Linked DNA regions of Homo sapiens. The protein of the gene in region 1 interacts with the protein of each later gene in a pairwise test. Each region holds a gene or a part of one and is shown in the gene's direction. Other genes may lie near its edges.

The links.
Region 2: the proteins of TRAPPC11 (region 1) and TMEM132D interact in a two-hybrid assay, tested with the Homo sapiens proteins (one large-scale study listed by BioGRID).

The regions. Positions count from the first base shown.
Region 1 is NC_000004.12:183,686,793-183,690,292, forward strand, and holds part of TRAPPC11 (trafficking protein particle complex subunit 11), read left to right. Parts: intron 1-3,500. UniProt on the Homo sapiens protein: Involved in endoplasmic reticulum to Golgi apparatus trafficking at a very early stage.
Region 2 is NC_000012.12:129,075,026-129,078,525, reverse strand, and holds part of TMEM132D (transmembrane protein 132D precursor), read left to right. Parts: intron 1-3,450; exon of another isoform or gene 3,451-3,466; coding exon 3,467-3,500. UniProt on the Homo sapiens protein: Regulate neuronals morphology via inhibition of the WAVE regulatory complex (WCR), a complex that controls F-actin cytoskeletal dynamics.

The DNA.
Region 1 (3,500 bases):
TAGCTTATGTTAAACTAGATAAAATGAGCTTAGTGAATTTTATGTCTTAATGGTTTCATAGTAACAAATGAACTTTGGTAAGGTCTATTCAAAAATATATCTCCAGGGCCGGGCACAGTGGCTCACGCCTGTAATCTCAGCACTTTGGGAGGCCGAGGCAGGCAGATCACAAGGTCAAGAGATCGAGACCAGCCTGGCCAACATGGTGAAACCCCGTCTCTACTAAAAATACAAAAAAATCTGCTGGGTGTGGTGGCACGTGCCTGTAGTCCCAGCTACTTGGGAGGCTGAGGCAGGAGAATCACTTGAACTCGGGAGATGGAGGTTGCAGTGAGCTGAGATCGTGCCACTGCACTCCAGCCTGGTGACAGAGCAAGATCTGTGTCAAAAAATATATATATATATATGTTTCTAAACTTCTAGCAATTCAAGTTTACACTTTGCTTACTCCAATTTTTGTTTTCACTCCATGTTTATAAAGTCTTAAGAATTCTCTGTGTGTGTGTGTATATATATATATATGTACACATATAGTATATATATACTTTTTTTTTCTGTCTTTTTTGAGACGGGGTCTCGCTCTGTTGCCCAGGCTAGAGTGCATTGGTGCAATCATAGCTCACTGTAGCCTCAACCTTTTGGACTCCCACCTTAGCCCCCTAAGTAGCTGGAACTACAGGCACCTGCCACCACGTCTGGCTAACTTTTGTATTTTTTGTAGAGACAGGGTTTTGCTGTGTTGCCCAAGCTGGTCTTGAACTCCTGGGCTCCAGTGATCCACCAACCTCAGCCTCCCAAAGTGCTAGGATTACAGGTGTGAGGCATCACATCTGGCCTTAAATTTTTTTTATAATGTATACTTGAATTCCAAATAAGGTATATTCAGAATGAATAGAATTAAAAAAACATTTGGTTTATATTTTACTTCAACATTATTAGTTAATGTTATTAGTTTATGATTATGGAACTAATTTATGTTTGACATTTAAAAAATTGAAATGGAATAGATGGATATAATGTGAAAAGTAAATGTGTGTCTTCTTTCTTCTCCATTCTCCCACACACCCTCTACGTTAACTTCTTGAATAACCTAGACATTTTCTGCACATGAATATATAAGCAACTTTTTTTCTTGCAGAATTGGGATCATATTTCCTGCATTTGAATATATTTGAAGCATTATATAGTATATAGTCAAGTACTTCATTACAACTCTATTATAAACTCACTTAGTAGATAATCATCTTTTGATTACCCAGAAAGTATAGTGAGTCTTTCACCAACAAGCATTTATTGAGAGTTACGATATTCTTAACATGCTGAATCTGAGTATAGCATATGTCGACCTCATTAAAATTTAGGCATTTTGGGGACAAGGGCCAGGACAGAATCAAAGATTGCCCAAATAGGTAATGAAGACTAAATTACGTAGTGTAGGCTAGAAAGAGGGACAGCTGTAGTAGGCATGCCAGAAAAAAGGGAGGGAGTTCCAAGAATGAAGATGAAATTACGATAGGTCGAAAAGATGGAGGGGGAGAACATGTTTGGCAATGAGAAAACACTGCATGGAAACAGAAGCGCACAATCTGTGTTTCTGGGAAAGTCACACCTCACTAGAACAGAGGGTTTATAATGCTGGGTGGTGGGAAATAAGGCCAGGTGGCTTAAAGGAACCTGGAAGAGTTAAGCGGGGATAGGCTAGTAAACAGATGTCTTTGAAGATTTATTTGTTCTTTTGTCTGTGTTCTATTTATTGGATGGTGATAAAGAAACGTTATCTGTTTTATTAGGATTTGATTCATAAGAAAAGAGAAATATCTCTGTAATAGAAATGATTAGATGAAGCTGGGTCACCTGAAGATCAGTATGTTCTATTCAACTTCAGACCCTTGCCCAGGGATTTCCTCTAATCCGTTTGAGAATTTTATTTTAGTGTGTGTGCGTGTGTGTGTGTGTGTTTGTGTGTGTTTTGAGACAAGGCTGCACTCTATCTCCCAGGCTGGAGTGCAGTGGCACCATCTTGAGTTACTGCAGCCTTAGTCTCCCAGGCTCAAGTGATCCTCCCACCTCAGCCTCCTCTGAGTAGCTGGGACTACAGGCACATGCCACCATGCCCAGCTAATTTTTGTATTTTTTTATAGAGATGGAGTGTTGCTCAGGCTGGTCTTGAACTGCTGGGCTCAAGGAGCCCACCCACCTCAGCCTCCCAAAGTGCTGGGATTACAGGTGTGAGCCATCATGCCTGGCCCAGTTTGAGAATTTTAAAGCAAGAGCATGCAATTTATTCTTAAAGTTTTAAGAAACTTTATTCTAGTAGCAAAATAGAAATAATATCATGGAAGCCAATTAGAGGCTCTTTATATTAATCCATGTACAAAAGTACAAGTATCGGAATTGAGTTGCTGGTGTTGGGAATGGAGATTCAGGGATATAAGAGGCATTTAAAAATAGATAAATCTGGATTGCCAAGTGCATATAGCGGCTGAAAAGTGGGGATAGGATGAATGAAGGACAGGAGGTTTTGTACATGCCCTTTCCTCTGCTTGAATTGGTTTGCCCTCCTCTCCGACTACTTCATTCCTTCTTGCCTTTTCTCACTTAAAAGCATCACTTCTTCAGGGAAGCCTCCCCTGACTTACATGACTGAATCACTTAGCCAGGCTCTCATAGCCTTGGTAGTACTAATCACACTGTGGTTTCACCGTTGTCTGTGTGATTATTTGGTAAATTACCTGTTTTTCCTTACTGGAATCTAAGCTCCACAAGGGCAGAAGGGCAGGGGTTTTTTTTGTTTGTTTGTTTTGTTCATTATGAAATTAGAGGGTCAACACAAGGACTCTTTTTTTTTTTTTTTTAAAGAGATACTTTGTTGCCCAGGCTGGAGTGCAGTGATGTGATCATAACTCATCTCAGCCTCAAACTCCTGGGCTCAAGTGAAGTATGGGGACTCTTATTTTACTTTTCCCTTAATAGCCTACTATTTCATTTCTTTTCTTTCCTTTTTTTTTTCAACAAAAAATATAAGCTACTATAATTAAAAACTAATAACGCTAAAATGGAATATAAAGCAATTAGTTTTAAAATTTAGATTATATTCTGAATATATCTTATTTGAAATTTAAGATACAGGCGGGGCGCAGTGGCTCACGCCTGTAATCCCAGCACTTTGGGAGGCCAAGGTGGGCGGATCACTGGAGGTCAGGAGTTCAAGACCAGCCTGGCCAACATGGTGAAACCCCATCTCTACTAAAAACCCAAAAATTAGCTGAGCGTGGTGGCGGGTGCCTGTAGTCTCAGCTACTTGGGAGGCTGAGGCATGAGAATTGCTTGAACCTGAGAGGCGGAGGTTGTAGTGAGCTGAAATTGCATTTCTAGTGGGCGATGGAGTGAGACTCCGTCTTAAAAGAAAAGAAATTCACAATATAAACCATAAGAAAAAAAAAAGTAGAGTAGTTTTTATAAGCATGGAATAGAAATGAAAATTGGCGGGAAAGTATAAT
Region 2 (3,500 bases), on another chromosome or scaffold:
GAGGGCTTGAGACACACTTCAGCAGGGTCCCTCACCAAGTGGATCACACACCAGGCAGGCACCACGCCAGGCGGGTCGCACAATAGAGTGGGATCATATATCGGGCGTTTGTTTCTCCATCTGCAAAGGGCTCTTCTGAAGCAGGTGACTCCTCTGCCTCATGTTTCCCAGCTCCCCCATGCAGAGATGAAAAAAATAAATACATATATACATAAGGATTGCAACATGTGAAAAATGAGAAGCCATTAAGGGGCAGGAGCCCTGGAGGAAAGGCCCACCCCTCATCCACCATAGTGCAAGTGCATGCAGGTGGTCACCTGTGCTCTCCACACGCTTCCTGCTTCCATGAGGGCATGAGGGCACGTGCAGGCTCAGAGCAGGTGCACAGCCTGATGCCAAGGTCCTGCTGGAGCGGAGGGTGACAGACCTGCTGAGTGGGGAGCCTGTGGCGGGAGATCGCTTCCAGACCATTCATTGTTCAGCTCAAGGCAGAAACAGAGAATTCATGGAGATGTCAGTCACAATTTTCTTTTACTTTATTTGGAACCAGTGTGAGCTAATAGAGTGTGTTTTGTGTGTTGTGTGCATATGTATATGTGTGTTGTGTGTCTATGTGTTGTGTACATATATGTTGTTTTTGTGTGTCTGTGTATGCATGTGTGTGTCTTGTGTCAGTATTTTGTGTTGCTTGTTTTGTGTTGTGTGTTGCATGTGTGCTTGTGTTGTATAGGCACCTGTATGCATGTATATATGTGTGTTGTGAATGTATCGTGTGTTGTATGTATGCATTGCATGTGTCTATTTGTTGTTTGTATGTGTGCATATGTGTGTGTGTTGTGGGTCTGTGTCATATATGTTTTTGCTTTATGTGTGTCCGTATGCATGTGTGTCTTGTGTATTTTCTGTTGTGTGTATGCTTGTGTTGTATAGGTGCCTGTGTGCATGTATATGTGTATGTGTGTTGTGTGTATGTGTGTGATGCATGTGTTTGTATGTGGATACAATGGCTTACAAAGGGGACTGTTATAGGGGACCTTTGAATGTAGTAAGTTCTCCCTCATTAGAGGTGGATAAACATTATTTCTTAGAACATAGGAATTTGGGTGAAGCTTGCTTAATAACAAAACATGGTGGTTGCAGGTCATTAGTTCTTTTGCCCCATGAAAAGGGATCATCCTCATGTGGGGCAGCTGGAATCCCTCCGGCCCATATGGGACATTGTTCTGACTGCTTCCCTTCTGGATCAGGAGCCTTTTCTGCGCACTCTTCCTCGGCAGGGTGAGGTACCAGGCCTTCCCTGCCTTCATGCACCAGCTGCGGCTGTGGCCATGTTCAGAGGAGGCAGGAGTGCCACACTGGACTTGCTAAGGGGCACAAAGAGCCTTCCCATTTTCCCAGCCTGCACCTGTCACATAATGCTCCCCTCTCAGGCATGAGCTAATCTCCTAGTCCTTATACTACAGTCTTTGTTTGCAGAGTTTTGGGTTAGAAAACACTTGAAAGTGGTTGATCCCAATAACAGAATCGAATTCTTGGCCAAAGCAAACCTCCTTTTCTCAAGGAAGGATGCCAGCCGAGAGGCAAGTTACAGATAGCAATGAAGAAATAACCTGAGGCTTTTCTCTGTCTTTGTGGGTGATAACATCAGCGGACCACCAGCTAGGCGTTAAGGAAGGGATAAGATGCAGCTAGAAGAAGGCCAGAAGGCTAATCCGTTCCTGACATGCAGAGCTAAACACGCTACCCTGAGATTTGCTCCATGGTTGGTTTGCAGGGCTCTTACTCCCTGCCTGCAACTTGGCTCTGACAGTGGTAGTTTCAAGAACTCCGTTGTGCGTTTGAATGCTCTGCTCAGATTTCATGGCCGATTGAGAGAACCTGGTAAGTCAGTGTCATGTCCAGTAGCTTTTGCACTGTGCCTTGGCAAGGTTATCCGCTTAGCAGGTAGTCCAAGCCAGTGTCTAACAGAATAAGTATTTCTTGGCTGAGCTGAAGGAAAGAGCAGAGGCCACCAGCCACATTTGAGGAGACTTTCTTCTTACTTCCAAAGACTAAACAACAACTGTGTAAAATTACTTCTGTCATGGTCAGGGGCCAGTAGGTCATAAGAGAAAAAAAAATCCACTCAAGCAAAAGCTTAAATAACAAAGGATGTGTTATGAGGATTATAGGGATCTCACAGAACCCAGCTGCAAGACCTTGGAGGAAAGGGAAGGTCAGCACTTTCATGCCCACTCTCTCTCTCACCTGTGTTTTTATTTTGGTCTAATTCATTATTGTCTTCCTATGGATAAATGCCATGCCCAAACATTTGCTTATACATAGTCCATCAGAGGGCTTCATTCCCCAATTTTATATGTGCCCCCACTACACATCTTCCCAAGCATAACTTTGTCAGTCTTGTCTTTCTGGTTTCAAGTTCGAGAGAGAGAGAGTAATGCTGGCTGGCTCAGCATTGCTGAGATTGATGGCTCTAATGGCAGCAGCTGTCTCATTTCAATCAGCTGTTGCTGTGGCCCAGCGGGCAGGGTCATGGGCCACCTAGTGCTGTTCATCATCTCGGGCTTGGGGCGGAGCAGGTTCTCTGAGAGGGAGGGAGGGAGGGAGGAAGCAATGGATCTGCCACTGCTGTCAAGCATAATGTCATCTTCACTAAAATTAAAGGCTGGCATGAAATTGGAGGTTATCTCCAATGATCTGCCTGGTCAAACTATTTGCAAAGAAAGTTGGTCTAAATCAACAAAGTGAAAACAAGCTCTGGCTGCTTTTTGGTCTTCCAGTTTCCTCCAGTTGGGTTGGGTGGAGGAAGAGATGAAGACTCTCCAATCAAGATGCTTCTCCCTCTCCTGCTGTCAGGCTTAACTCCTCCCTCCAAGCCAAGACTATGGCCTGAGGCCAGGACAGATCCACTCCTGCAGACCCAGAAAAGGCAGGGCTGGCAAAACCACAGCCTGCAGCCCTGCAGTGGGACCTCATCTAGATCAGAGGCTTTTATCTGTATTGCCAGTAATCAGTGGAGACTCAGTATTACAACTTAAAAATAATGTAATAAATATTTTTCATTTGAATGTGTAACACTTGTAAATGATTCCACTAACCAGTAATTTCCTTTGTCGTGCAATTTATTATTGTTCAGAAGTTGATTCTGAACAGCCCAAGGGCCCATCTTCCTTTTATAACAACACCTACAGGAGAAAAAAAAAAAAAGCAAATCTTCTTACGGATTGTTTAATACTGGCCCTGTTTTGTCATTTTGTTGTTGTTTTATTTTGCTTTTTTGCATCTTTGTGAGAATTCATTTTCTTTTATACTCTTGGTACTTCTTATCGCTTATTTCTACACTGTTTGAAAGGTTTGTCTTTGTTCTTGTAGCAATAGTTTTGCCGTTGTGTGTCTACTGTACTAAGACTTGGGGCTCAATGAGCTTTTTGGCCCATTTGATTAACTTACATATTTTTCTCCATAGGAAGCAGCCATCAGTTGCTGGGTCCAGTTCAGTG